Linked DNA regions of Homo sapiens. The protein of the gene in region 3 purifies or fractionates together with the protein of the main gene of each other region. This does not show direct contact. Each region holds a gene or a part of one and is shown on either strand. Other genes may lie near its edges. The genes, in order: POMK, TMEM63B, SLC19A2 and ENDOD1.

The links.
Region 1: the proteins of SLC19A2 (region 3) and POMK purify together in Homo sapiens (affinity purification with mass spectrometry; 4 studies listed by BioGRID and IntAct, with this or other methods). This does not show direct contact.
Region 2: the proteins of SLC19A2 (region 3) and TMEM63B purify together in Homo sapiens (affinity purification with mass spectrometry; 2 studies listed by BioGRID and IntAct, with this or other methods). This does not show direct contact.
Region 4: the proteins of SLC19A2 (region 3) and ENDOD1 purify together in Homo sapiens (affinity purification with mass spectrometry; 2 studies listed by BioGRID and IntAct, with this or other methods). This does not show direct contact.

What each region holds. Positions count from the first base shown.
Region 1 is NC_000008.11:43,103,512-43,110,537, forward strand, and holds part of POMK (protein O-mannose kinase), read left to right. Parts: intron 1-16; 5' UTR 17-37; coding exon 38-319; intron 320-7,026. UniProt on the Homo sapiens protein: Protein O-mannose kinase that specifically mediates phosphorylation at the 6-position of an O-mannose of the trisaccharide (N-acetylgalactosamine (GalNAc)-beta-1,3-N-acetylglucosamine (GlcNAc)-beta-1,4-mannose) to generate phosphorylated O-mannosyl trisaccharide (N-acetylgalactosamine-beta-1,3-N-acetylglucosamine-beta-1,4-(phosphate-6-)mannose).
Region 2 is NC_000006.12:44,144,539-44,151,564, forward strand, and holds part of TMEM63B (mechanosensitive cation channel TMEM63B), read left to right. Parts: intron 1-2,308; coding exon 2,309-2,389; intron 2,390-2,838; coding exon 2,839-2,962; intron 2,963-3,713; coding exon 3,714-3,847; intron 3,848-3,974; coding exon 3,975-4,112; intron 4,113-4,253; coding exon 4,254-4,407; intron 4,408-5,320; coding exon 5,321-5,427; intron 5,428-5,685; coding exon 5,686-5,772; intron 5,773-6,025; coding exon 6,026-6,091; intron 6,092-7,026. UniProt on the Homo sapiens protein: Mechanosensitive cation channel with low conductance and high activation threshold. Osmosensitive cation channel preferentially activated by hypotonic stress.
Region 3 is NC_000001.11:169,468,945-169,475,970, reverse strand, and holds part of SLC19A2 (thiamine transporter 1), read left to right. Parts: intron 1-5,784; coding exon 5,785-6,007; intron 6,008-7,026. UniProt on the Homo sapiens protein: High-affinity transporter for the intake of thiamine. Mediates H(+)-dependent pyridoxine transport.
Region 4 is NC_000011.10:95,085,717-95,092,847, reverse strand, and holds the start of ENDOD1 (endonuclease domain-containing 1 protein precursor), read right to left. Parts: upstream 3,003-7,131; 5' UTR 2,921-3,002; coding exon 2,621-2,920; intron 1-2,620. UniProt on the Homo sapiens protein: May act as a DNase and a RNase. Plays a role in the modulation of innate immune signaling through the cGAS-STING pathway by interacting with RNF26.

The DNA.
Region 1 (7,026 bases), on a different chromosome or scaffold from region 3:
TCATTGTGTATTTTAGGAAATTGCAGAGGCCGTCAACATGGAAAAGCAGCCCCAGAACAGCAGGAGAGGCCTCGCCCCCCGAGAGGTGCCGCCAGCTGTTGGGCTGCTGCTGATCATGGCCCTGATGAATACTCTGCTCTACCTCTGCCTCGACCACTTCTTCATCGCTCCTCGACAATCCACTGTGGACCCCACACACTGTCCCTATGGTCACTTCAGGATAGGACAGATGAAAAACTGCTCACCTTGGCTGTCCTGCGAGGAGCTGAGAACAGAAGTGAGACAGCTGAAGCGTGTTGGGGAAGGAGCTGTAAAGAGAGTGAGTCCGGGTTCATTTGCGATTGCTGTCATCCTGTTATTTCGCTTAACACAGTGTCCTCCAGCTCCATCCATGCTGGCACGGATTACGGAATTTCATCCTTTGTTACTGCCAAAGTGTACTCCATTGCATATGTGCACCACATTTGCTTTGGTTGATTCTGTATCTTGGCAATTGTGAATAGTGCTGCAGTAGGCATAGGTTTCAGCCCTTAGGGAAGCAGTGTGGCATCCAGTGTTAGGAGCCCTGCTAGCTCTACGTTTTTATTGTTGAGCTCAATAATCTTACATCTGGCACTTTATCTTTTTTTTTTTGAGAGTCTCGCTCTGTCACCCAGGCTGGAGTGCAATGGCGCCATCTCGGTGCACTGCAATCTCCACCTCCTGGGTTCAAGTGATTCTCGTGACTCAGCCTCCCGAGTAGCTGGGACTATGGGCATATGCCACCACGCCTGGCTAATTTTTTAATTTTAGTAGAGATGGGGTTTCACCATGTTGGCCAGGCTGGTCTTGAACTCCTGACCTTAAGTGATCTACCTGCCTCGGCCTCCCAATCGGACTTTATCTTAATAAGTAATCCAAGGCAGGAAAAAAGTCAAATGCATAAAAGAGTGCCATAGTGATAGAAAACTAGAAACAAAACTTTTAGAATAGTTCATTAAATGATGGTCCATCCACTTGACGGAATATTCTGCAACTGTTGTGTAGTTAGGAACCCCAAGAGGCAACATGAATAAAACCTTATGATGATAAGTGAAGAAAACAAGATATAAAATTGTATAATTGACTTTTCAACTGTGAAATTACGTGTATATGTAGATAAATACAAAAATGGTCAGGCGCAGTGTCTTATACATGTAATCCCAGCACTTTGGGAGGCGGAGGTGGGCGGATTACTTAAGCACAGGAGTTCCAGACCAACCTGGGCAACATGGCAAAACCCAGTTTCTACAAAAATACAAAAATTAGCCTGGCATAATGGTGCGCACTACTTGGGAAGCTCAGGTGGGAGAATCTCTTGAGCCTGGGGAGTTTGAGGCTACAGTAAGCCATGATCTTGCCACTGCATTCCAGACTGGGTGACAGAGCAAGATGCTGTCTCCAAAGGAAAAAAAAAATATGAAAATGATAGAAATTGTGCTAGGGTGAAAGGGGGATTATGGGCAATTTCTTTTCCTGTTTTTCAAACTCTGTGATGGTATTATACTGATTTTTAACAATTTATTTTTAATTGGCATGTAATAATTATCCATATTTATGGGGTACACAGTGATGTTTCCATACCTACTTACAGTGTGTAGTTAGCGGATCAGGGCATATCTGCCATCTCAAACATGTATCACTTCTTTTGGTTGGGAACATTCAATATCTTCTCTTCTGGCTATTTGAGAGTGTATAATATATTGTTAATTATAGTCATCCTATGGTGCTATGAAACACTGGAACTTGCTTCTCTTATCTAGCTGTAATTTTGTATCCTTTAACAAATCTCTGCCTATCCTCGCCTTTGCTCTACCCTTCCCAGCCTCTAGAAAACTGTTAGGCTTTTTACTTCTTTGAGTAAGCTTTTTTAAACTTCTGCATATGAATGAGAACTTGTAGTGTTTAACTTTCTGTTCCTAGTTTATTTCACGTAACATAATGTCCTCCAGTTCCTTTCATGTTGCCATAAATGACAGATTTCCTTCTTTTTTATAGCTGAATAGTATTCTATTTTGTGTATATATACCACATTTTCTTTATCCATTCATCTGCTGAAGGACACTTAGGTTGATTCCATATCTTGGCTATTGTGAATAGTGCTGCAATAAACATCGGGATGCACATATCTCTTTTTTTGTTGTTGTTTTTTGAGACGGAGTTTCCCTCTTGTTGCCCAGGCTGGAGTGCAATGATGCAGTCTCGACTCACTACCACCTCCACTTCTGGGTTCAAGCAATTCTCCTGCCTCAGCCTCCTGAGTAGCTGGAGTTACAGGCATGTGCCACCATGCCCGGCTAATTTTATATTTTTAGTAGAGATGGGGTTTCTCCATGTTGGCCAGGCTGGTCTTGAACTCCTGACCTTGTGATCCACCCACCTTGGCCTCCCAAAGTGCTGGGATTACAGGCGTGAGCCACTTAGCCTGGCTGTGCATATCTCTTTGATATATTGATTTCCTTTCCTTTGGATATATACCCAGTAGTGGAATTGCTGGATCATATGTTAGTTCTGTTTGTAATTTTCTGCGGAACCTCCATACTGTTTTCCATAATGGCTGTACTAATTTACATTCTCACTAACAGAGTATAAGCGTTCCCATTTCTCTGCATCTTCACCAGCATTTGTTATTTTTTGTCTTTTTGATAATGGCCATCCTAACTGGGGTGAGATGGTATCTCATTGTGATTTTGGTTTGCATTTTCCTGATGATTAGTAACATTGAGCATTTTTTCACAAATTTATTGGCCATTTGTATGTCTTCTTTCGAGAATGTCAGTTTAGATCATTTGCCCATTTTTTGATCATATTGTTATTTTTTTCTGTTGAGATGTTTGAGTTCCTTGGATATTGATCCCTTGTTAGATGAATAGCTTGCAAATATTTTCTCCCATTATGTAGTTTGTCTCTTAACTCTATTTGTTTCCTTTGCTGGGAAGAAGGTTTTTGGTTTGTTATAATCCCATTGGTTTACTTTTGCTTTTTTTTTTTTTTTTTTTTGACTGAGTCTTGCTCTATCGCCCAGGCTGGAGTGCTGTGACATGATCTTGGCTCACCGCAACCTCCACCTCCCAGGTTCAAGAGATTCTCGTGCCTCAGCCTCCTGAGTAGCTGGGATTACAGGCGCCCACCACCATGCCTGTATTTTTAGTAAAAATGGGGTTTCTCCATGTTGGCCAGGCTGGTCTTGAACTCTTGACCTCAGGTGATCCGCCCTCCTCGACCTCCCAAAATGCTGGGATTACAGGCATGAGCCACTGGGCCCAGCCCTCAGTTATAATTTTGCAAAGGCGGTTTCAATCCCTCCCTTTGGGGTTTTGTAGCATCTTATTCTTAAGGTGTGGGCTATGAAGATGGAAAAAGGCCATTGATCACTCTAGCTTCTTCATGCTGACAGGGGGCATAGTTGGGGTCGGAGTTGACCCTAAGGTGAGAGGAGTAGAACTGCTTTGCAGCTGTCTGAGTATATTCATGCAGGCCGGGCTGTGGTTCCAAGGCTTTCGTGACAAAGGCAGTAGTATCTTTATAGTTTTAGTACAGCATTTAAACAGACAGTCTACTATAAGGTAAATAATGAGTTTTAGGATAAGGAGTGCAATTTCCAGTTTTAAAAGTAAAGGTTTGAAAGCATTAGTCTGGGGACTTATAGTCCACAAAAATATTAGGATTTAGTCTAAATTGAAGAAAAAAAAAACTAACAACATGTGTACCATAGTTTTTGGAACATAATTTTTCTCTCTTTAGTCCTTATTTTTATTAAAACAAATCACGATAGGACTGATTTGTTGGCAAAATAAACTTTAATTTTATTATGCTTGGCCTGATTATTTGCATAAAGCGCATCAGTAATACTTTTTTTTTCCGAGATGGAGCCTTGCTCTGTCGCCCAGGCTGGAGTGCAGTGGCGTGATCTCAGCTCACTGCAACCTCCGCCTCCCGGGTTCAAGCAGTTTTCCTGCCTCAGCCTCCTGAGTAGCTGGGATTACAGGTGAGTGCCACCACACCTGGCTAATTTTTGTATTTTTAGTAGAGACAGGGTTTCACCACGTTGGTCAGGCTGGTCTCGAACTCCTGACCTCGTGATCTGCCTGCCTTGGTCTCCCAAAGTGCTGGGATTACAGGCATGAATCAGTAATCACCTGGCAAGAATACTTTTTTTTTTTTTGGTAGAGATGGAGTCTTGCTCCGTCACCCAGGCTGGATTGCAGTGGTGTGATTGTGGCTTACTGCAACCTCCGCCTCCCGGGTTCAAGCAATTCTTCTGCCTCAGCCTCTCGAGTAGCTGGGACTATAGGTGCACGTCGCCATGCCTGGCTGATTTCTTTTGTATTTTAGTAAAGACGGGGTTTCACTGTGTTGCCCAGGCTGGTCTTGAACTCCTGAGCTCAGGCAATCCGCCTGCCTTGGCCTCTCAAAGTACTAGGATTACAGGCATGAGCCTCTGCGCCTGGCTAGAATAATTATTTTTTACATAGGCTTTTTAAATTGCCTTTGATGGAACTCTGTTCCATAAGGAATCTCAGATAAGACTTTCTAAAGCTGAGTCCAGCCATAGGTTTGTACCTTCAAATACTTATGAGTTGGGTAAGTTCCTCTCCTCTTGATGCCCCTAGATAACTTGGGGCTCCTGGGCCTGTCAGAAAGTGACATTCTATACTTACCATGGGTCAGGAACCCTGTACAGGGACTGTGTAGACAAAGTATGAGCTCAGTTTTCCCAAGGGCTTTTACTGGCTTTACAAGTACAAGTCAAGGTTGATTCCATAAAGGAAAGCATGCCATTCTAGTCAAACCCTTGGTAAAATAACCAGTGTTTTCAATAGTGTCCTGTTACAAAAGAAAACAGATTCTTATTGTATTTATGAAAATAACTGTATTGCCATAAATTAAGAATACTCACAAATAGTTTTTAAATTCTGGAGAAATCAAGTAGAAACAAATATGCGCCAAATTTTATTCACAGGAGTGTACTTTACTCAGTTGCTACAAGCTGTAAATAGCTTAAAAGAAATTTCCCTGACTCTGAAAAAGCAAAGAATCAGCAGCATTTTAAACAAAAAGGTTACTTCAGACTTTTATTAGTTTAGTCCATGCATTTAACTTCTGTTTGATATTTATGAACATTTCAGCTTTCCATGAGAGTTCTAAAAGTTTTTTTCCTTTATTCTATGTCATAATCTCCAGAGTTATCAGAAACTTGCATTCAAGAGCACATATCAAAGTTTTATAGCTGATTATAAAACCATCTTCTAAAGAGGACCAAATTAAAACAGCAGTTATCTTTGGATGAGAAAAGCATTTTAGGGAAGCCACAAAGACACAATTAACAAGGAAATTTGTGAATCTGTGGCACACAATAATTCAACACAACAGTTATTACTGATGACATATACTGAGTCATATCAGAATTGTAGGAATTTTATACAGTTTTGCAGCACGTAACTTTATATCACAAATTTATATGAATATAACCCAAAGAAAGTTAAGCACCATTTTCTATTTGACAGTGTTTCCTGCATGATTTTAATACATTAAATAAGCTGAATATGTCTTTTGTACTTTAGGGGACTTAATTTTTAAAAATTTTTTATTTTAACTTAGAGCTTGATTTTGAAAGGTTTGTTAAATACCAAACGTTTAAAACATTGGATATTACAAAATGGAGTCTTAGGTTTCCGTAAGTCATTCATTTAGCCAAAGTAACTCAAAAATTTTCAAAAGGAAAAACCATTATTCTGGTAGGAGACTCAGCTTTCCAAACAAGACCCAATGAAGGTAGCATGAGGCTGATTGCCTCCTCTCTCTCCCCTCCCCCTTTTTTCTTTTGTAGTTTACTTAAAAGGTAAATAAAAACCTTTCATTATCTTTTAATATTCCATAAAAATCCTTTTTAAAAGAGAAAACTGAATTTTATGTTTCCATTAGTGTATTTTTAACGTTAAAGCCAGTTTTAATTACATCTTATAAATCTGTCTAGTTCTAATTAGTTTGACCATAAGGTAAGATTTTTTTTTTATTTTTTATTTTTTTCAAGACGCAGTCTCTCTCTGTTGCCCAGGCTGGAGTGCAATGGCATGGTCTCGGCTCACTGCAGCCTCCATCTCCTGGGTTCAAGTGATTCTCCTGCCTCAGCCTCCCGAGTAGCTGGGACTATAGGCATGTGCCACCACACCTGGCTAATTTTTGTATTTTTAGTAGAGACAGGGTTTCACTATGTTGGCCAGGCTGGTCTCGAACTCTTGACCCCTTGATCTACCTGCCTCAGCCTCCCAAAGTGTTGGTATAACAGGCGTGAGCCACCACACCTGGCTTGCCATAAGGTAAGATTTTTATGAATCTTTTATAACCCTTTACAATTTTGTTTTTTTCTTAGAACAAAACTGTTTTAAGAAAACTCTGTTGTGCTTTTATTCCAATTTCCAATTTATGGAAAAACTGCATAACGTGACTTAAACTTTAGCCAATATGTTCACACACAGAATCTCTTACAATTAAGTTTTTATAACCCTTTCACAACTTGTTCAAACCTTTAGACTTTTCCTATCTCATTTAAAACAGTCCGTTAACACTCTAAACTTAGGCAAGAAATCCACATTCCCATGCCTTCTCATAATCTTTTACCAAAAGTACATTTTACTTCCCTTACATGCCTCGTGTATAGAACTGTTTCTTCAGTAGTCTCAAGTGCATATTACACTGTTAACTCAATGACTTTTACTTTTGGTGGAAAGCCTGGTGAGTAAGCAATTTCAATTACGTACCAGGAGTGGAGCCTAGGACACCAGAAGGTCTGACTGTTTCCAGTGTAGCTAGGGAGTGTGGCTAACTCCACATGTCTCAGGCCTTACCTAGCTATAAAGCAGGCAAGTTGTACAGTAAGAGTCATAGTGGCATTTTATGAAGTATTTAACAGGCCTAACAACCTTTGAATTGTACAACATTTCTTGCATAAATTGCCTTTTCATGAATACGTTCACAACTTACAGAGACCATCTACAACATGCTTGG
Region 2 (7,026 bases), on a different chromosome or scaffold from region 3:
TTTAGAACAGTAACTCATGCATTCAATACTTGGTGGTCCTTCATTTAAAAAAAAAAACAATTTTTTTTGAGACAGAGTCTCACTCTGTCTCCCTGGCTGGAGTGCTGCAATACAGGGGCGTGGTCATAGCTCACTGCAGCCTTGACCTCCTGGGCTGAATCGATCCTCCTGCCTCAGACTCCCGAGTAGCTGGAACTACAGGCACTCACCACCACACCTGGCTAATTTTTTTTTCTTTTTTTAGAGACAGGGTCTCACTATGTTGCCCAGGCTGGTCATGAACTCCTGGCCTCAAGCAATCCTCCTGTCTCAGCCTCTCAAAGTTTTGGGATTACAGGCATGAGCCACTGTGTTCAACCTAAAAATTTTAATAAAATATAAAAAGATGGGGACTCAGTCTAGATTAAGGATTAGGATCAAAGAACAGTGCATGATCAGATTTAAAAACGAACTACTGGCCAGGTGCGGTGGCTCACACCTGTAATCCCAGCACTTTGGGGAGCCGAGGTGGGTGAATCACAAGGTCAGGAGTTCAGGACCAGCCTGGCCAAGATGGTGAAACCCCATCTCTACTAAAAACATAAAAATTAGCCAGGCGTGGTGGCATGTGCCTATAATCCCAGCTACTGGAGAGGCTGAGACAGGGGAATCACTTGAACCCAAGAGGTGGAGGTTACAGTGAGCTGAGATTGCACCACTGCACTCCAGCCTGGGCGACAGAGCAAGACTCCGCCTCAAAAAAAAAAAAAAAAAGCTATTAGGCTGGGTATGGCAGCTCATGCCTATAATCCCAGCACTTTGGGAAGCCAGGGCGGGCCAATCACCTGAGGTCAGGAGTTCGAGACCAGCCTGGCCAACATGTTGAAACCCTATCTCTACTAAAAATACAAAAAAAAAAAAAAAATTAGCCGGGTGTGGTGGCACACACCTGTAATCCCAGCTACTCAGAAGGCTGAAGCACGAGAATCACTTGAACCCGGGAAGCAAAGGTTGTAGTGAGCCCAGATCACACCACTGCATTCTAGCCCGGGTGACAGAGTGAGACTCCGTCTCAAAAACAAAACAAAACAAAAACAAAAACAAAAACGAAACAAAAAACAAAAAGAAACTATTCCCTCCAGCCATGGTGGCTCACTAGTGTAATGCCCACACTTTGGGAAGCTGAGGCAGGATGATCACTTGAACCCAGGAGTTCAAGACCAGCCTGGGCAATACAACAAGACCCCATCTCAGAATATTTGAAACAAACAAACAAACAAAAAAATGAACTATTCCTTCACTCAGCAAGCATTCTTCAAGCCTTGCCTGGTACCAGGTACTAGTGAGTCAGTGCCAGTTTCTCTCTGGTCAGTCTTAAGTCAAGGTAAGGATGAATCTGGGGTCAGGGTTAGGAGGTCAGTCTTGGGTCTGGGCAACAGGTCTGGGGTCAGTCTTTGGCCAGGGTGGGCTTAAGGGTCAGTCTTTGGCCAGGGTTACAGGTCAGTCTCACCCTGGTCAGGGGTCAGGATCAATCTCTTGTCTGTCTTGGGCCAAAGTTAGAGATCATTTTGTAGACTGGGTTATGGGTTGGTTGAGGTCAGTCTGTGGTCAAGGCTAAGTGTTGGGCTGTGACCAGGTCTTCTGGGAACAGGGTTAAGGAATTATATAGCCTATGACTAGATGCAATTTTTTTCAACCTAAAGGTCACAGCCCTGGACAGGAATCAGACCATAGCCCTGGCTTCCCTACCTGCATGCAGTATGTCCCTACACATCCTGGTTTGTTAGCCCAGCCTGCAGTCACACAGTGCTCAGGCCTTCTGCTCCCACTTCCCCACTCAGATAAGCATGAGGAGGAACTCCAAAGCTTTATTCTTGGGGAACTCTCAGTTTTGTAGACTAAGAAAAAGGCAGCTTGAATTGGAGATGTGGGTTTTTTTGTCTTTTTTTTTGAGATGGAGTCTCGCTCTGTCGCCCAGTCTGGAGTGCAGTGGCGCGATCTTGGCTCACTGCAACCTCCACCTCCCGGGTTCGAGCAATTCTTCTGCCTCAGCCTCCTGAGTAGCTGGGACTACAGGCACGTGCCACCATGCCCAGCTAATTTTTGTATTTTTAGTAGAGACAGGGTTTCACCATGTTGGCCAGGCTGGTTTCGAACTCCTGACCTCAGGTGATCCTCCCGCTTCGGCCCCCCAAAGTGCTGGGATTACAGATGTGAGCCACCACGTCCAGCCAGAGATGTGTTTCTTGAAGGTGATGGGGTCATGGATGAAAGTCAGGGGCAGGTGGGTGGGGTCCCTGCACAAGATGATACATGAACTGTGTTTCAGGGAAGCCTACCCCAACTGCACAGTTCTCGAAGCCCGCCCGTGTTACAACGTGGCTCGCCTAATGTTCCTCGATGCAGAGAGGTAAGGGACTGGGGGCAGAGGAGGGTGACACCAAGGGCCCCCTGCCATTGTGGAGGACATCTTGGCTACCACACAGGCTCCCCTTCTAGATTTTTTCCTAGGGCATTTGATTTTAATTCAACTCGTTGGTGTGCCTGTTAATTCAGCTCTGGAAAGAGCAAGGCCTGGAGGTTAGAGTTTGTTGTGAGGGGAAGGGGGGCCCATGGTCCCCACTGCATCTGAGGACATGCCCTTCTTTGGCTACAGTATGAGAAATTTAGGTCAGCCTGCAGGAAGAACTTCTGGCCCTCTAGGGATGGGTGGGGAGACCTTGGGATGTGGCCACATCTGAAACATGTATCCTAAACAAGAACAAGACAGCTCCTGTCCTTGGGGAGTGAGCTAGATGACCCCCAAGCTGAGCCAGCCCCAGCCCCAGATGTAGGTGACCAGGCATCTGGGTCCCACAGGAAGAAGGCCGAGCGGGGAAAGCTGTACTTCACAAACCTCCAGAGCAAGGAGAACGTGCCTACCATGATCAACCCCAAGCCCTGTGGCCACCTCTGCTGCTGTGTGGTGCGAGGCTGTGAGCAGGTATGACGCGGGCTGGCTGTTGAGTCGGGAGAAGTTGGACAGGTCCTGGGCAGGCAAGGCTGGGGCCCTGCCCTCAGTGAGTCCCCACCTGTCCCTGGAATCCTTGAAGCCTCAGTTCCCACTGTTGGGTTTGTCTAATGTCCCTACAGTGACCAGGTTTTCAAACCTCAAATTAGAAAATGTCAGCCAAAAGGACAATGTTGTGCTGTACCCACTGACTCTGGGGACTTGAGCAAGTTGCTTACTGCTCAGTGCCTCAGTTTCCTCATGGGGTTAACGTACCCACCTTATGAGAGTGTTGTGAGGGTAAAGTGAGTAATACATATAAAGAAGCTTAGAGGTGCTGGGTGCGGTGGCATATGCCTGTAATCCCAGCACTTTGTGAGGCTGAAGCAGGTGGATCACTTGAGCCAGGAGTTTGAGACCAGCCTGGGAAACATGGCAAAACCTGATCTCTACAAAAAATACAAAAATTAGCCAGGCATGGTACTGCACACATGTATTCCCAGCCACTTGGGAGGCTGAGGTGGGAGGGTCACTTTAGCCTGGGAGCTTGAGGCTCCAGTGAGCTGAGATTCCACCACTACACTCCAGCCTGGGCATCAGAGCGAGACGCTGTTTCCAAAAAAAAAAAAATGCTTAGAGGAGCAGTGCCTGGCTTGTAGGAAGCCCCAAGTCAGCGTGGGCTGGATGCTGCAGGCCCCAGCCTGGCTTTCCAACTAGAGGCCCTGTCCCTAACCCTCCCACAAAGGTGGAGGCCATTGAGTACTACACAAAGCTGGAGCAGAAGCTGAAGGAAGACTACAAGCGGGAGAAGGAGAAGGTGAATGAGAAGCCTCTTGGCATGGCCTTTGTCACCTTCCACAATGAGACTATCACCGCCATGTGAGTCCCCAACTCGGCCCTCGGCCCTGAGCAGCCCTCCAGGGCTCCCTGACCCCTGTGCTCATGGCCTTCTGCCAGCAGTGTGGCCTCCAGGTGGGCCTGTGGTAACCAGTGCCCATCTTTCTAGCATCCTGAAGGACTTCAACGTGTGTAAATGCCAGGGCTGCACCTGCCGTGGGGAGCCACGCCCCTCATCCTGCAGCGAGTCCCTGCACATCTCCAACTGGACCGTGTCCTATGCCCCTGACCCTCAGAACATCTACTGGTGAGCAAACAGGTGTCAGGGCAGGCTTTCCAGGGCCTGGGATGGGCTCAGTAGGTAGGCGGAGGAGAGGGAGTGTCTTGGTGTCACTGGGGGCCAATCCTGCCCTTGGTTCCTGGACTGACCGGTTCCCCACCTTGCCAGGGAGCACCTCTCCATCCGAGGCTTCATCTGGTGGCTGCGCTGCCTGGTCATCAATGTCGTCCTCTTCATCCTCCTCTTCTTCCTCACCACTCCAGCCATCATCATCACCACCATGGACAAGTTCAACGTCACCAAGCCTGTGGAGTACCTCAACGTGAGGCCTCATGCCCCTGTCACTTTCCACGCTGGGTCACAACACACAGATACCAGGCCCTGATCCCTCTTCCACTTGCCCAGCCCAGCCCGTTCTGCTTGTTCCAACCCCGTGCCACCAACCAGCTCCCAAAAACCCCTGTGTGCACTTCCCTTGGGCTCCCTGCCACCTTCCCCCTGAGAGAGGCCACCCTCAGGTGTGCAACACCTGGAGAAACACCCAGGGAAGAGAGAGAGCCTGCATTTAGTCCTGATCTCAGAGAAGTCCCCTTCCCTCACCCCTCAGTCTAACTGAAAAAATGGAAAGGTTCAACTAGATCAGTGGCTTTGGACTTGGATTCTGATCTCTTTATCGGTGTGAAACCCAGTGTGGAAAAGCAGGGCTGCTCCGATGACAGTAGGGTGGCATGCATGTCTGCCTGGCCTCCCCTCACCTCTCCTCCCACGCATAGAGCATACCTCTTTAGAACCTCAGAGTTTGAAGAAGGACAGTTTGCAAATCACTTGGAGTGATAATACCATAATAGATAAGACCCAGACTGCATGGATTCAAATCCCTACCTCATGGCTTGCTAGCTAGGGAAGCTATTGAATCTTTTTTTTGCCTCAGTTTACTCATCTGTCAAATGGGGTAACAGCATTATTGTGAGGATTAAGACATGGCAAGTACATCAGCACTGCTTAGAACATAGTAGATGTTCAGCAAATGCTGACTATCAGTATTATCCACCCTGGGGTTATACATATGGCCCTGGCCCCCACCCTCACCCCAGCCCTCCGGATGTTCTGGGCTTCCAACATGGGAGCCCTGAGAGTTGTGAGGCCAAGGGCCCAGCTGGGGAGGAGGCACATAAGCAAAGCCACCTGGGCCCCCTAGACTGCCCTGCCTGACGCCCCCCTGTGCCCTGCTGCAGAACCCCATCATCACCCAGTTCTTCCCCACCCTGCTGCTGTGGTGCTTCTCGGCCCTCCTTCCCACCATCGTCTACTACTCAGCCTTCTTTGAAGCCCACTGGACACGGTAAGGTGCCTCCACTCACACCACACCTCGCTGTGGCCTGCCCTCAATGACCCATCCTCTCTGGGCAGCACTTTGCCCTTCAGGCTCCTGGCCCTGGGCAGTCCCACAGCTGGTAGGGAAGGGGTAGTGCCCAGCACCCTCACCTTGGGAGGCCCACCCTTCCCAGGGGACACTCCTTGGACATTGTCCTTGTTGGGGGAGCAAGTCTGGGGCCTGGGCTCACTTGACCTGTACCGTTCCCTGCTCCCCTCCCTCCAGCTCTGGGGAGAACAGGACAACCATGCACAAGTGCTACACTTTCCTCATCTTCATGGTGCTGCTCCTACCCTCGCTGGGACTGAGCAGGTGAGTTGAGAAGGATGGGGCAGGAGCCAGGGTAGGGGGACAGCAGGATAGGGAGAGGAGAGCAGTTCAGCCTCCCTACCTCCCCTACAAAGCAAGGGGCCCAAGATGGGAAGCCTGGCCACCCCCAGGCCTCCTGAGCTACCCACCCCATGTCTGGGAGTCTCCCCAGTGGCTCACAGAGGAGGGACTTCCCCTCCCCTGGTGTTCTGTACCACTCCAGCTCCCACCCCATCTCTCCTCTGCTTCCCTCCAGCCTGGACCTCTTCTTCCGCTGGCTCTTTGATAAGAAATTCTTGGCTGAGGCAGCTATTCGGTTTGAGTGAGTGACTGGGGCCCCTAGGGAAAGAGACCAGACAGCAGGGGTGGGTATGCTTGAGAGACATTGCCAGCCCCATGGGAGGGTGCAACAAAGCTTCCAACTCCTGGAGGGGGCAGAAGAGAGAGGATCTGGCGGGGTTACCCCAAAGGCACCCACAAGGTGTCTTGGGTGTGTATACATGGTAGAAGTCCCTGGGGTCTGTGTTGGTGTTCACTCTCTGGTAACCTGTTTGGATGCTAAGATCATCCTCAAGGTATATTTGGGGCTTGGGGCTCCACATTCTGGTAGTTTCTATGGGGGTGTCTTGTGCCCATATTCTGGGACTAACTGTGGGCGTCTCTGGAGTTCCACTTGGGAGGTTTGGGGAACCATCTCTAGGGAGGTCTTGGTGATACTTAGGGAGTGTCTTGGAGGCTACTAGGGGTATCCCTGAAGGTCTCTAGAGCCCATATTTTTGGGTATGTGTAGGAGGCTCTTGACCTTATAACTCTGGGGGTGTCTGTGGGCGGGGAGGCTAAAGGACTCACACTTTGGGATGTTTAGCAGTACAAGTTCTGGGAACATCTCTAAAATTTCAGGCTTTTATTCAGAGATGTAACTGTGGAGTTCTGTATGGGCATCTTCTCTGGGAATCATGTGAGGATATATTGAAGGTCATGCACCATGGCTGTGGGCACAAACTCTAGGGGTTTTGCTGTAGGCCATCTGTGGTGATCTTTGAGTCACACTTGGGGCATCTCAGGCACTGATAAAGGTTCCTGGGCTCCCCCAGAGATGTTGCGGGAAGGGTCTCAAAGCTTGTTTGTGGAGGTATCTGAGGCTCATGTCACACTCTGGGGGTAACTCGAGTTATGGTCTAAGTGGGGGAATCTTCTGGGTGTTCCTGGGGCTGTCAGCCTTTGGGTTCTTTGAGGGTCTCATTGGGTTGTCTTTGG
Region 3 (7,026 bases):
GCTGATAATAAAGAACCATTATGAGTAAAGTCTTTCATTCTCTACTGAGAGTTAACTGAATTGTTTAAATGTGGCATCTAATGTCCTCATTGAAAATTACTCTCTTTTCTCTATCCCCGTTCTTCAGCTCTCAAATTACTACTTGAAATTTAGGTTATCATCCCAGAGAGCCTGGGTAGACTTGTAGAGCCTGGGCAACCCTCATCATGAAACTCACCTTGATTACCAGGGCACCTGTGAGCACTTTTTGTCAGAATGACCAAGGATTAAGTGGCAATGAAATGCTGATTTTTTTCATAGTTTGTTAGGTGATATTAGAGAGTCAACAGAGGGTTGATGGGGGAGGGAAGGAGGTGTGTAATCATTTCATAGATTTTATGAAGTGGAAAAAAAATAAAGACACTTCTTTATCTGTTTTGAATGTGTTACAGTGGCTTTAGCTAAAATTAACGTATATACAGATAATATGTGTATAAATATATATTTTAGATATTAACATATTGACCATAGTTCTAAAGATTTTTATAGACAGTTTCAAACTTTTTTGAATATAAGTAAGAAACATAGAAAACATTTTACATAGAAAACCTGTACATACATAGGTATGTATATATTTTATATATAACAGAAACAAGTTTTACAACAGTGTTTTATTCTGATACATTCTTTTATTTTTTTTAAATTCAGTTCACTGTCCTCTAAATCAATTTTATTGCCAACTTATGGGTGATGACCTATAGTTTTAAAAACTGTTCTAGATCAACTTGAAATACTTGTTTATAGATACACAGTGTGTCAGTATTTTATATACTGAAGAATTGTAGAATTTTAGAGTTAGAAATGACTCTAATCACAAGTCATAGAAAAAGCAGAGCATTTTAAAAAGAGATTAGATTTCATCAAGACTGTCCTTTTAGAGATAAGGATTAGGATCAGAGATTAGCAACTTATGCAGAATTGTACAAATATACTCTTGAACATAATTTAAAAGTGTGTATGAGATCCAGTTCTTTCTAAACCTTTCTCGGTGAAGTCTTTTAACTGGGGTAACAATGTCAGAACCATCATGTCAGTTACACTGTTTTCAGAATTAGGATTCAAGTCAGTTCCCTGATATCCTAGGCTCTGCTACTGATACCATAGCAGATGGGCAGTGCTGCTTGGTATTGGCACTGACTGGCCCTAAAATGCTGCTGTTTTTCTTTGGCAAGCATGAAGAAAATTCAGAATATGGATATTAGGGATCACAGAGCTATTTTAAGTTGACAAGACCTATAATTAAACCATAAATTATAATTGTGGTAATTATTGAAGAGTAGGTAGGTAGGTGGTTTTATCTTGATTTTTATAGAAAGAGAAAATGAAGTAAGAGGAGTCTAAGTGATAGCTCATTCTACAAGTTACCTTAGAGTATTTGTGAGTTATTTTTAAAGAGAGTCTATTGCATTGGGGCAAAGGGTGCTGATCTTGCAGAAAGAAGAACCAAAGCTGGTGACTTTCTTTTACAAGCAGAGCTGGATTCATTATGTAGTTGGCTGATTGGTGAAACTGATTTATTTTGAGTTCTTCATCTATTAGAAATGACATAAATTAAACCACTTCTTTAGCACAGGTTCTGACATGTAATTAATACCTAGTAAATGATTCTCTTAATATAGCCATGCTTTTATTTGTAGTTTGATATCTTTTACTACTAGTAAGTGTTCTTTCTGTGTCTGCATGTCTAAGGTCTCTAAACAATGACAACAGTGAAATTAATGCTTCCACTTTGGTATTAAATAATGTCATTTCTAGCAGCAGGGTGTAGTGAGTTACCACCTACCTCCCTCACCAAAACCCATAAAAATAAAAAACTACAATAAACCCTGAGAACCAAAATGAACGAAAATCTATTCGCTTCATTCATTGTGAGTTTTTAAGAAAGTGAAGTCCAAACCCTAGTTCTAATACTTGGGCAAGTTACTTAATTCTGTGAGATTTAGTTTCCTTATGTACATATCTACCTTATACAGTTATTTTGAGTATTTAAAGCTTTCAAATGAGTTTACATAGTAGGTTTCCAATAAATGGTAATTGCTATTATTACTATTATCATTATCATTACACGTGAATAATCCGGAACAGCTCTGTACTTTTATGGTAGATAGTCATGTATTTGTGAGGTTGTAAATAGAGCAATCTTTCCTTTTCTCTTTGAATTAATCACCCCTGGTCATCTTCATCATCATCATCATCACACCTCCTGTTTATTTTGACCTGGGTATCAGATACTGTGCTAAGAACTTTAGAGTCAGTATGTTATTTGATTCTTATTAAAACTCAATAATGTAGATATTTGCTCATTTTACAGAAGAGGAAACTAAATTTAGTTAACTGACTTGCGCAAAGGCACATAGGAAGTGGCACTTTAAAACTTTCCAACTCAGGCTGGGCATGGTGACTCACACCTGTAATCCCAGCACTTTGGGTGGGCAAGGCAGGCAGATCACTTGAGGTCAGGAGTTCGAGACGAGCCTTGCCAACATAGTGAAACACGATGTCTGCTAAAAAAAAAAAAAAAATACAAAAACTAGCTGGGCGTGGTGGTGCATGCCTGTAATCCCAGCTACTTGGGAGGCTGAGGCAGGAGAGTTGCTTTAACCCGGGAGGCAGAGGTTGCAGTGGGCTGAGATAGTGCCACTGTACTCTAGCCTGGGCAACAGAGACTCTGTCTCAAAAAAATAAATAAATAAATAAAATTTCCACCCATATCTAGTTGACTCAAAAACCACCACTACAGTAGAAACTTCCATTCCCTGATAGAGGGAAGTAATTGTTAAAGATTTTTAAATTTATAAAACAGCGTCAAAATCTTATGTTCAAATGAAATCTGAAACTAGATGCCCGTTATGATAAGTAAATAAAAATTGAGCCTTTCTGATTGAAACAGGAATGCAGGTCTGATAATTTTACATACTTGAGCCTGTTATTCATCCCACATGAAACTCTTAAAGCTCCATGGAACACAGTGAAGGCCACTTATTAAATTAGAGCATGCATGATTAACTATGAGCAGCTCAGAGTTTTGATGTAATAGAAATAAACCTTTGTTTGTAGATGTAATTTAACAAGAAACATAAAAGGTAATATGTCAAATGCTACTTTATAAAGTGTGATTCATATAAGCTTAACATTTGAAGCCTAGAAAACAGCATAGAAGGAAGCCTGCAGATTATAGCACGAGGTGCTGATTTTATAAACAGGACCTGCCATCTTTTCTTTTTGGCATGGCCAGATAATAGATTGAGTAGTTATTAACCTCTGTGTGTGGAATTCATTATTATGTAATAGATCTAAAGTTCTCAAATGCATTATACTGGGCATTATTTTATGTATGCCATGACTTTTTAAGCTATGCAATAAAAATAACACTAATTGAGCCCCTCTATAATAAATATATACATTATCTAGTGTAACTCTGTATAATCTTTTGTGGATAGGTTTTATTGTTATCATTTTCATTTTCTAGATGAGAAAAGTAAGGCTTTCTTATCAGTTTATGGTAGGATTTCTAATAGAAACTTGTGAATCCTTTTAATAGTTCCATTCTTCCAGGAATATACTTTCTTTTCTTATAATCCTTCCAGCATCCTTGAAAGTTTTAGATATCCCAGTTGTTTTCCAAGTTATATTGGTTAAGCAACTGAAGCTAAATAGTAAAATTCTGATGTAGTTCAATAAAACTGGTGGACCTTGAATAAAGACTTATGAAAATGTGCTTGGTACCATTCACTCACTCTTAGCAAATTCACATTATATATGATTAACAATTGTCTTGTGATTTGTTTAAATTCACAAGGTTTGCTCTCATACACAGTGCCAAGAAATCAATCTTGTAACAGCAGTATGTTGTACTTCTAGGTGGTTATCTTATGCAAATTCATCAAGTAGAATTTTCAAGTGTCGGTACTTCTTTCTCTGAGTTATTTTGATTAACCTCAGTACTCCTCCCTGAATTTTGGAAAGGGGCTGTAGTAATGGTACTTGAAGGATATCCCCCTCTGGGCTAAACAGCACAAAGAAGGAAGCACCACACTGGGGTTGCTTTGGGATGGTATGAGAAGGTAAAACAACGATGAAACTCGGATTCTCAGTCCAGTGAGGTTTTCTAGCCTCTGAGGGAGAAAATGGCCTTTATTTAACTAATGTTGATGGTCACTGTTACTGTATATAAGAGGAGAAAATATCTATTAATTTTATAAAAATGATATATATGGTGTGTGTGTATATATACACACACACACACACACACACACGTTTGTTTTTTGAGACAGAGTCTGTCTCTGTCGCCCAGGCTGGAGTGCAGTGGCGTGATCACGGATCACTGCAGCCTTGATCTTCTAGGTTCAAGTGATCCTCCCACCTCAGTCTCCTGAGTAGCAGGGACTACATGTGTACACCACCACACCCAGCTAATTAAATTGTGTGTGTGTGTGTGTGTGTGTGTGTGTGTGTGTGTGTGTGTGTGGAGACGGGATCTTACTATGTTGCCCAGCTTGATCTTGAACTTCTGGGTTCAAGCATTTCTCCTGCCACGGCCTCCTGAAGTGTGATGATTCCAGGTGTGAGCCACTGTGCCTGGCATCTACTTATTTTTTTAAATTAAATGTTACAGAAAGCTATATAAAAAATAAAAAATCACCTGAACTACTACCACCCAAAGATTAGTGAACTTCTTTTCAAACATCTCTTTTCCTATATACATATGTACGTATACATTTTATAGTAAATGAAATTGTGATCTACATGTAGTCTTGTAACTTGCTGTTATTTTACTCAGTGGTATATTGTACTCATCTTTCCATGGCTCTCATTTTGCCTTTCCATGTTAGCCACAAAAGTAAAATTTTCTGTGGGTTTTTTTTTTTTTTGGTAGAGATAGGATCTCACTTTCTTGCCCAGGCTGGTCTTGAACTCCTGGGCTCAAGCAATCCTTCTGTCTTGGCCTCCCAAAGTGCTGAGATTATAGACATGAGTCACTACACCCGGCCTTCCCATGTTCTGAGCAAGGCCCAGGGATTACAGTAACCTTTGGTAGATTAGTCCTTTCATACAGTTGAAATCAGAGATATCTCACAGAGTGTCTGACATCTCATATTGACTTCTTGGGATAGTGCGTAGCTCAGTAATGTCTTGCTTCACTCAATTATAAGCCCAGTAGCTTTATTTATTACTTTATTATAATACTATTTCTCATTGTTTAAATATTAAGTAATATAAAAAGTTTAAGGAAGAAAATTTAAATCACTAAGAACCCACCACCTAGAGAGAACTGCTAATATTTTGGTCTACTTCTTTCCAATATTTCTATCTTAACTGTTGGATCAGTCTGTCAATTATAACGATAGGAGGCCTTAACTGAATAGTGATTTATTAGGGTTGCTAGTCTGTTGCTTATTATTATTCTTGTTATGTTGTTTGCCAGTTTATGGGAGATGTAGATTACAGACTCCCATTGGCTGAAGCCTGCGGTCTCTTTTCATCATCTTCATTTTGTAAACAGTACATCTTTTGCTGGGTTGATTACATACAGCTGTGTTAATGCTATAGTGCATTTAAAGCAAAAATCCTATGAGAACATATTTTTCGCCAGAGGGGATAAATGTATTTGTTAATAAGTTTATGAAGTAAGCAGTTAGTTTTCACAAGGAAAAAAGTCTGTTAGGTAAGTAATTGGGCCTGTAAATTGCTTTCTATATAATTGCCTTCATCAGAGTTTGAGCATTGTTCCCTTTTGCTATGTAGGAACCCAAGCCAGACCGTCTCCTTGTATTGAAAGTACTATGGAATGATTTCCTGATGTGCTACTCCTCTCGCCCTCTTCTCTGCTGGTCTGTGTGGTGGGCCCTCTCTACCTGTGGCTATTTTCAAGTTGTGAACTACACACAGGGCCTGTGGGAGAAAGTGATGCCTTCTCGCTATGCTGCTATCTATAATGGTGGCGTGGAGGCCGTTTCAACCTTACTGGGTAAGCAATGCAGGATAATAGAGGGTCGTGGTGGGGGAGGGATTCCTCTGGTAGTTAAGCCAGCCATAATCAGATTTATTCACCCCTCCCAAATTTGAAATAGCCTCAAAAAATGATTATTTTGAGCTAGATTTTACAATTTAGGAGGACAACTTAGAAGTACTCAAGTGGAGCAGGACTATGACTAACAAACTGGAATTTTTTTATAAGCTTTGAGTAAACCTAATATAATAATTTTCAAGATTGTTTATCCAAGTTTCCATTATCTCTGTATTTACTGGGTAGTTTTGTCACTTGATGTGAAATTTTGAATGGCAATATATAATAGTTTATAACAATAGTATCTAATATTTGTTGAATGTTAATATGTGCTAGGTACTGTTCTATGGACATTATATACATTAACTCAATCCTCACAAAATTCCTGAGATAGGTAGAATTTATCCCCATTTTGCAATGGAAACTTGGGACTGGTAGGTTAATAACTTGCTCAAGGTCATATGGATGGTAAGTAGTAAAGTCAAGACTTGAACTCAGGCAGGATGGCTTCAGAGCCTGTGTATTTGACCATCTTACTCTATTGTTCATTTCTAATTTGTTGACCTACCTCCTGAGGTTGTTGGATGGTGTTATATGATTTCTGTAAACACTTATTATCTGTCTTGGCCCTCAGAAAACACTTCATAGATTTTAGCTATCCTTATCATCATCACTGTTTTACCAAAAGGCAGAGAAGCCCTTTTGCCATGTTCTAGACTGCTCCTTGGTTTGAAGGAGAGATGACTCATCCTGCCATGATGCCAAATTAGAAGCTATGGTTCTTTTTGACTCTTGCCTCTGCTTCAGCTGCAGCATTTTTTTTCCTTAGCAATGTCCCTGTGTCTTTGTCCTGCATTTTCATCTCATTGCCACCTCTCCTAATTCAGTCTGTCATCTCAGTGGCTCCATTTTATTGATTCCATCAAGTTCAGAAATTTCTGTGTGAGTTTCAAGGCCCTCCATAATCTTGAGCTATTCTG
Region 4 (7,131 bases), on a different chromosome or scaffold from region 3:
AGGGTACACATTGAGCCCTGAGCATCTTTCTGCAGTGGGGATCTTGGCTGGGAGGCAGGGCCTCAGGGAGCAGGCAACAGTGGGGGCAGGTTTGCTGCAGTGCACTCCAGGCCCAGCTGCACCTCACACCTCCTCCTCCCTCCCTCTCTCCCAATACTCTCTGGATCCTGGCTGACTTGACTTGAGGTCGAGCGGGTGGATGTGGGAGGCCAGCCACCTTGCAGGGAAAAGCATCCTGCAGTGCTCAGCCACAGTGACCATTCTGACCTCTCAGCACAGCAGGAACTCAGGCCCCTTGTACTCTTCAGAACCGCTGTACATCTTACCTCTCAAGCTGCCATTTGTAACTATTTCCACCCTCCCTTCCCATCTTCTTTAATCTCCACAGTCCCCTTCCTCATTATCTCACCCAGGGTCTCCATGTTACCTGGTTCCCTGTACTTCTTTCTGTCAAACTATGCTCCTTTACGACTCACTCCTTCCCTAGCTGCATAAATGGCTCTGCCTCCCTAAGCCTTCCTTGGTGGCTCCTCCCCACCTGATCCCTCCCTTCCATGATTCCTTTTTATTCTGAGCAATTGAGTGCATTCATCTATTTGTATTAGTTTACCTGTTCCAACTTCTTCACGCACAAATCCCTGAATCTGCCATGCCTTTCTCACTCATGATGTTTGTTCCCTCTGCTTGAAATGTCCTCCTCCTTGCCTCCCTTCTAAACTCTGCCTTATCTTTCCACACACAGCAGAAATGTCATCCTGACCCTAAGGCTTGCTTCCATCACCTCAAAGACAGATTAAATCTAATAGGACTTTGTTCACCTTTATTAAATTATGGTTTTTTGCTTAGGTCATAGCAACAGCTAGTACTTAGTACTCATGTGTCACACACCTGAGAACTTTATATATGGTAACTCATTAAATCTTCACACCACCCTATGCTATTATCTCCAATTTAACCTGCCCAAGTTCATAGCTAGTCAGTGGAGCAACTAGGATATGAACCCACATAGCATGGCTCTAATCAGATACTACACCACCTCTCCACCCAGCAAACTCCACCTGCAGATCAGGTAGCCTTTGTTCCAGAACTGCACTCAGATCTCTTGGTCCCAAATATCTGGCACACAGCAGGAGTCACTAAATGTGTTCTGAATTTAACTGAAATTTGTTTAGCATCCATTCCCATGATTTCCTCAGACGTATGTTCTGTCTCCCCAAGCTGTCCATGAGATCAAGGGGAAAGAACTAGCTCATTTGTTTTCTTCGCAGGCACACAATCACAATGCAAGATGAGAGGTGGGGAACACCCTGTGAGCTCTAGGGGTGCAGCTGGTGGAAAACTAATTTTGGATTTAAATGTGTCTTGTGTGTGCAACTGACAACGTCTTTTTCACATGCCTGATCTCGACAAGTGTTATCAACAGTTGAGGTAGGTGGAAGGATGTGAGGAAGATAAGAAAACTAGGTGCAGATTGTTTGAGACCTGGCCAAGACCTCAGAGCTAGAAATATCTGAATGAGATTACAACCCACAGGCTCTGAATAAAGCACCTGAAAGCCAGCCTCCTGTCCACTGGTGTGGTCCTGGGCAGCTGTGGCCGTCAGGAAAGGGAGAGCGTTGGGTCAGTTCTTCCCCCAGCAGCCTGGGCAGGGGTGGGAGGCTGGTGAGAGGGCAAAGGGGAGTCTGGCAGGGTGTTCTAGAGAGGAGGCCAACTGAGGAGAGGTATTAAGAGCAGGCCAGCAGGTTCGGAAGACTCTGAGGGCTTCTCAAGTGTTTGGTCACCTTTACCAGACGGGACAGAACACCATGAGAGGTGACACGATTTCCTAGTGGTATGATAATATAGATATGAGGAGTCAGGAAAAACTGGCTTATCTTTCCATCAGTTGGAGGTAGTCAATGTTTCCCTATCATTTTTAACTACCCCATTGCGTTTCTAAAAATCTGTATCTTTATTTCATTGTTCTAATTCAACACAACCGCAGATCGAATTTACTCAACGCCGTGGTAGAGGAAGGATTTTCAGGCTAGGATGAGCTCTGCAGAAGAGAAGCTTTACTTAGTAGAAAAGGCAGTGAATTTCTAGACAGAGACCTGCCCCATCTTACTAACTGGGTAGTCTTCCATATGTCTCTTCACCCCCTGGGTTTATCTCCTCTTCTGTAAAATGGGGATGAAAATGCCCACCTACCCACCTCCAAATGAGTGCTATGGCAATAAGTTGCACGAAGGCCTGTGAGCGCCCAGCCTAGGCTTTCTGCGGATCTGAACGGTCTCCAGGGTCTCTGTATCAAGCTCTTCACCATTCAGGAATGAAACACTGCGGATGTCTGCTCAGAAATGCAGGGAGAACCTCCTCCCACAGGGGACCTCCCGCCCTGCAGCTCATGAAGTGAAGGCTCGCAGATCGCCAGGCTCTTATTGTAGCTCGACAGGGGCGAGGCAGGCTAACTCCGGGGACGCAACAGGGTGGACCTGGAACCCGGGTTTCTTGGCCCAAGGCACCGAAGGCGTAGGGATTGCTGTTCCCGGCCCGCCCCTCGCGGTAGCTGCAACTGGGGGCATGTCCAGCGGCACGGTCTCCGGCGCCCGCAGCCCGGCTCGGGAACCACTTCGCTTACCTGCGGCTCCACCAGCCATCGCTGCTCGGCGCCGCCGGGCGCAGGGCGCGGGGCGCGGAACGCGGAGTACACGGGGATGCGGTCCCGGGTGCTGTAGAGGGTGGCGAAGCGCTCAGCACCCTCCGCGCGCTGACAGATCTTCACGTGGGAATCGGCCGCCAGCCCCGCAGGCGGGGTCCCGGCGTAGAAGAACTTGTCACATTCGCCAAAGCCGGCTTCCTCCTCGCCCACGAGCCGGCCTTCCAGCAGCCCAGCCAGGGCGAAGAGGCTGCCCAGCGCGAGCCAGCGCGCGGTGCCCATGGCGGCCTCTGCGAGCGCGGCGGGGCCGAGCGGCTGGGCTGCCGCGGCGCGAGCTCTGCAGGCTGGGCGGGGAGCGCACTACGCAGCCGAGCAGGGTAGGGAAGGGAAGTCGCAACCTAGGCGCGGCGCTCTGCGGAGCCGGGCGGGGCGGCCCGGGCGGCGGGGGCGGGTCCGCGTCGGGAGGCCGCGCCTCCCTCCCTGAAGATGGCTGCAGAGGCCCAGGGCCGCGCTCCGCGATGCTGACAACGTACCCTGGGCTGCGCCCGGGACTGGAGACGCGGGTCACCTGCCTCCGCGCCGCCTGGTCTCAGCAGTCCGGGGGACGCGCGCTACCAAGAGTGGAGAATCCGAGTGGGGCGGGCCTAGTCCCGGGGCTGGGAAGAGATAGTCGCATGGACTGGGCGCCAAGAAGCCTGCTGATCGCGCGCGCCCCACGGCCGCCCTGGTGATGCAGAGGGGTGGCGTGAGATGCTCGTGGAGCTGCGGCTGGTTCGGAGTGGATGGGCAGAGTTCCCCTCTGAAATTTCATGAAGATGCGTCTCCCACTCTCCACCGAAGTACTCAACGACCAGCACACGCATACAATTTTGATGGAGTTTTTTGTTTTTTGTTATGTTTTTTTAGCTCACCAGAAACTCAGAGAGTAAAGAAATACTGTTAAAGGAAGTTCCTAAACTAGGCAGACAGTATAACCCTGTGTGGTTTTCTTGGTGCAAGTGTTAGAAACAAAACCGATACCAAGCAAGGAAGGAGGCCAGCCAACGTCATTGGTCAACAGGTTGGCCAATTCTTTCCTTCATTTATCCCTCTGAATGCCTAGGTGCCAGCCTGAGATAGGCACTGGATTACCACAGGGGTAAACAAGAGCAGGGCTCCTGCGGTCACAAAGACAGCCTAGTGGGAAAGTTTGTCATTAACCGAGGAAACATGCTATTAAAGGGATAACTAAAAACTGAACACAGATCTGTGAGACCCTGACAGCTACAGGGGTTCAGGATGTAATCCGGGAAGGTTTGCCTGAAGAAGTGGCATCTGAGCTGAGACCTGGAGGATGACATTAACTAGGCAAGGAGGAAAACCATGTGCTAAGTGGTCTCCCACAGAAGGGAACATGATGTATTGGAGGAATTTAAGGAAGGCTAGTGTGGGTAAAGCGCGGAGAACCGCGTGGGGGATGATGGGAAGTGGGGCTAAAGGAGGAGGCAGGGGTCATATTACTCAGGTTATTATAGGCCAGAGGCCTTCAAACACTTTTTGAGAAGGCCCATAATGAGAAAAGTTTGATGAAATAATTCTTATGCTTATGATTGGCATTGCAATTTCATATTTCTGTTCTACTTCACTTTTTTAAAAAAGTGCTGGTGTTGACCCACTAAATTGTTTCTATGAGCCACTAATGGCTCATGACCTGCAGTTTGGAAAAAATATTGTAAATCATGTTGAGGATTTTCATCTTTTAAAGGTGGTGACTCGATTCTTTTTGCTATCAGGGAAGAGACTGGTAGATTGAAGTGGCACAGAATAAATGGGTGGCTCACACCTGTAACCCCAGCACTTTGGGAGGCTGAGGCAGGCGGATCACCTGAGGTCGGGAGTTTGAGACCAGCCTGGCCAACTTGGTGAAACCCGTCTCTACTAAAAACACAAAAAAATTAGCTGGGTGTGGTGGCGGGCACCTGTAATCCCAGCTGCTTGGGAGGCTGAGGCAGGAGAATCGCTTGAACCCAGGAGGCGGAGGTTGCAGTGAGCCAAAATTGTGCCACTGCATTCCAGCCTGGGCAACAGAGCCAGACTTTGTCTCAAAAAAGAAAAGGAAAAGAAAAGAAAAACACCCCATAATTGCCACAATCCAGATAAGAGATGGTAGCTTGGACCAGGATGGTAGGATGGTGGCAGCAGAGATAGGGTCAAGGCAGCTACCCAGGGCCAGGGCCTGTGCTCATCTTACGATGTCATCTGTTTCCCCAGTGTGCCACTACAGGGACTGAGACCAGAGCCTGTTGATTCTGGCCTAAGCTGGCACAGCCAGTGAGTCCTAAGACAGATTTGAAACAGGTCTCTCTGCTTCCCAAGCCTGGCCTTTTCTTTTAACTCACAGCGCATCTGTAAGGTGAGCCCATAAAGAAGGAAGCTCTTCAAGAGATTATACATTGGAACTTAAGAACAAATTTCTTACAGGTTTTAATTCCGGAAAATGTTGACTATGTTTGGTCCCAGAAATGAAACCAAAGTTTGTATCTTAGTTTTTTTAAAAAAAGGAGGGGACACATTTAGTGTGATGTCACAGAAGAGGCTAGACTTGAAGTCCCCTTTGATCTGGATGATGACCCTGATCATCTGGTACTAGTATCTCAGTCATCTCATCCTTGTAGGCTTCAATCAAGTCCTCCCACAGGGACAATGCTGCTCCTGGGATGCTGGGAGGATTATAGGTTTTACAGGATTTTAAAAATATTTACATTATTTTATAAGGTTGAATATAGGGTTCCCCAATGTTGACTTATGATGTCTACCATAAAGATATATAAACACAGTTGAACAACTAGAAATCCATCCCTCTCTTCTCTGAGTTCTTTAAACATTTATCTGTTATGATACTTATCATGGTAGAGTGTTAATAGTCCCTGTATCTGTCTTCTTTATTAAATCATGTGCTCCTAGGGACAAAGGTGGTTGGTGGATCCCAGTGGCTACCACAAAATCTGGAGTGATTAGATGCCAAATATGATTATGTTGTATTTTAACAAATGCAGAAAGTATAATACAATCATCATTGGCCTTTATGACTAAAGTATTTATAAGACTTTAATTCACTTTCTCAAAATTTCTTGATGCCTGCCCGCCACCTCTGATAAGCATAAATATCTCTGCCACTCAGTCCCTGTGGCAGACTTTAGTTTTTTCCCCAGCCCTCTATCAGTGACTGACACACATATAACACTGAACATTTGTACATCCCACAGCCAGGATGATTTTGTTTATTTTCTTTAGTTTATAGTACAAGACAATAGATTTTTCTTCCATGTGCTTGCCTTCCACAGATAAAATATTACTTTTGCAAATTACAAATGTTCTCACCCCAAGATTCTGGAACAACCTACAAGGTAGGAATGCCTTGATCTAATTAAAACATTTGCTAACTGCTGATTTTAGGGGAAAACTGTCTTTAGCAGCATCTGTATGTGTAAAACATGTAGGTCCATCAATAATTCACTGCTGTCTCTACATTTGGTCACTGACTCTCTTCTCACAGGGAAAGAGGTTTCAAACCAGATCCTCTTAGGTCTCTGCACTCAGACCCAGCCAAAGCTGGGTTCCATAGCCTTCAGCAAAGGCTTGAGGATGAAAAGTAATGGTTGATGTGGAATAAAACATTTGACATGCACTTCTGTGGCTTGGTTGGTTCTGTCCAAAGTTATTTAAAAATATGAGCCCAACTAGACACTTCTTTCCCCTGCCTCACTGCTCTGATGATAATTGCATCTCTACCATCACACCTTTGACCAAGCCATCCTCATTTGTCATGCCCAGTTTTTATCCCGTCATCCCTTCTAATCCACTCTCCAGCTGGGATGACTTCCTAACATAAATCTGATGATGTCACCCTACCCTTACAGCACTTAATCACTCTCCATTTACCTTGGGATGCAGCCTGACATACTAGCTGACTTCCATGACCCCAGAGACCTGGCCTTTCCCTCTCAGGCCTCATCTCTCTCCACTCCCACCTTGCCCACACGCTCAGCTTCTTATATTTCCATGAATGCACAGTGTTCTCTCTTTTGTTTTGTTTTTGAGACAGGGTCTCTCTGTCACCCAGGCTGGAGTGCAATGGTGCAGTCACAACTCACTGCAGCCTCAATGTCATGGGTTCAATTGATCATCTCACCTCACCCTCCTTAGTAGCTGCAGCTACAAGCGTGTGCCACCACATCAGCTAATTTTTGTATTGTTTGTAAAGACAGGGTTTTGCTATATTGCCCAGGCTGGTCTGGAACTCCTGAGCTCAAGCGATCCATCTGCCTTGGCCTTCCAAAGTGCTGGGATTACAGATTTGAGCCACTGAACTCAGCCTGATGCTCTCTCTAGTCTTTGAAACTTTGCATCATAAACTACTTCCCTTGTCCTGGAATTCTCACCACCCATTCTCATCCCTTCACTCATTTCATCTAGCTTTTTTTTTTTTCCCAATAGTCTAGCTGACCATCACT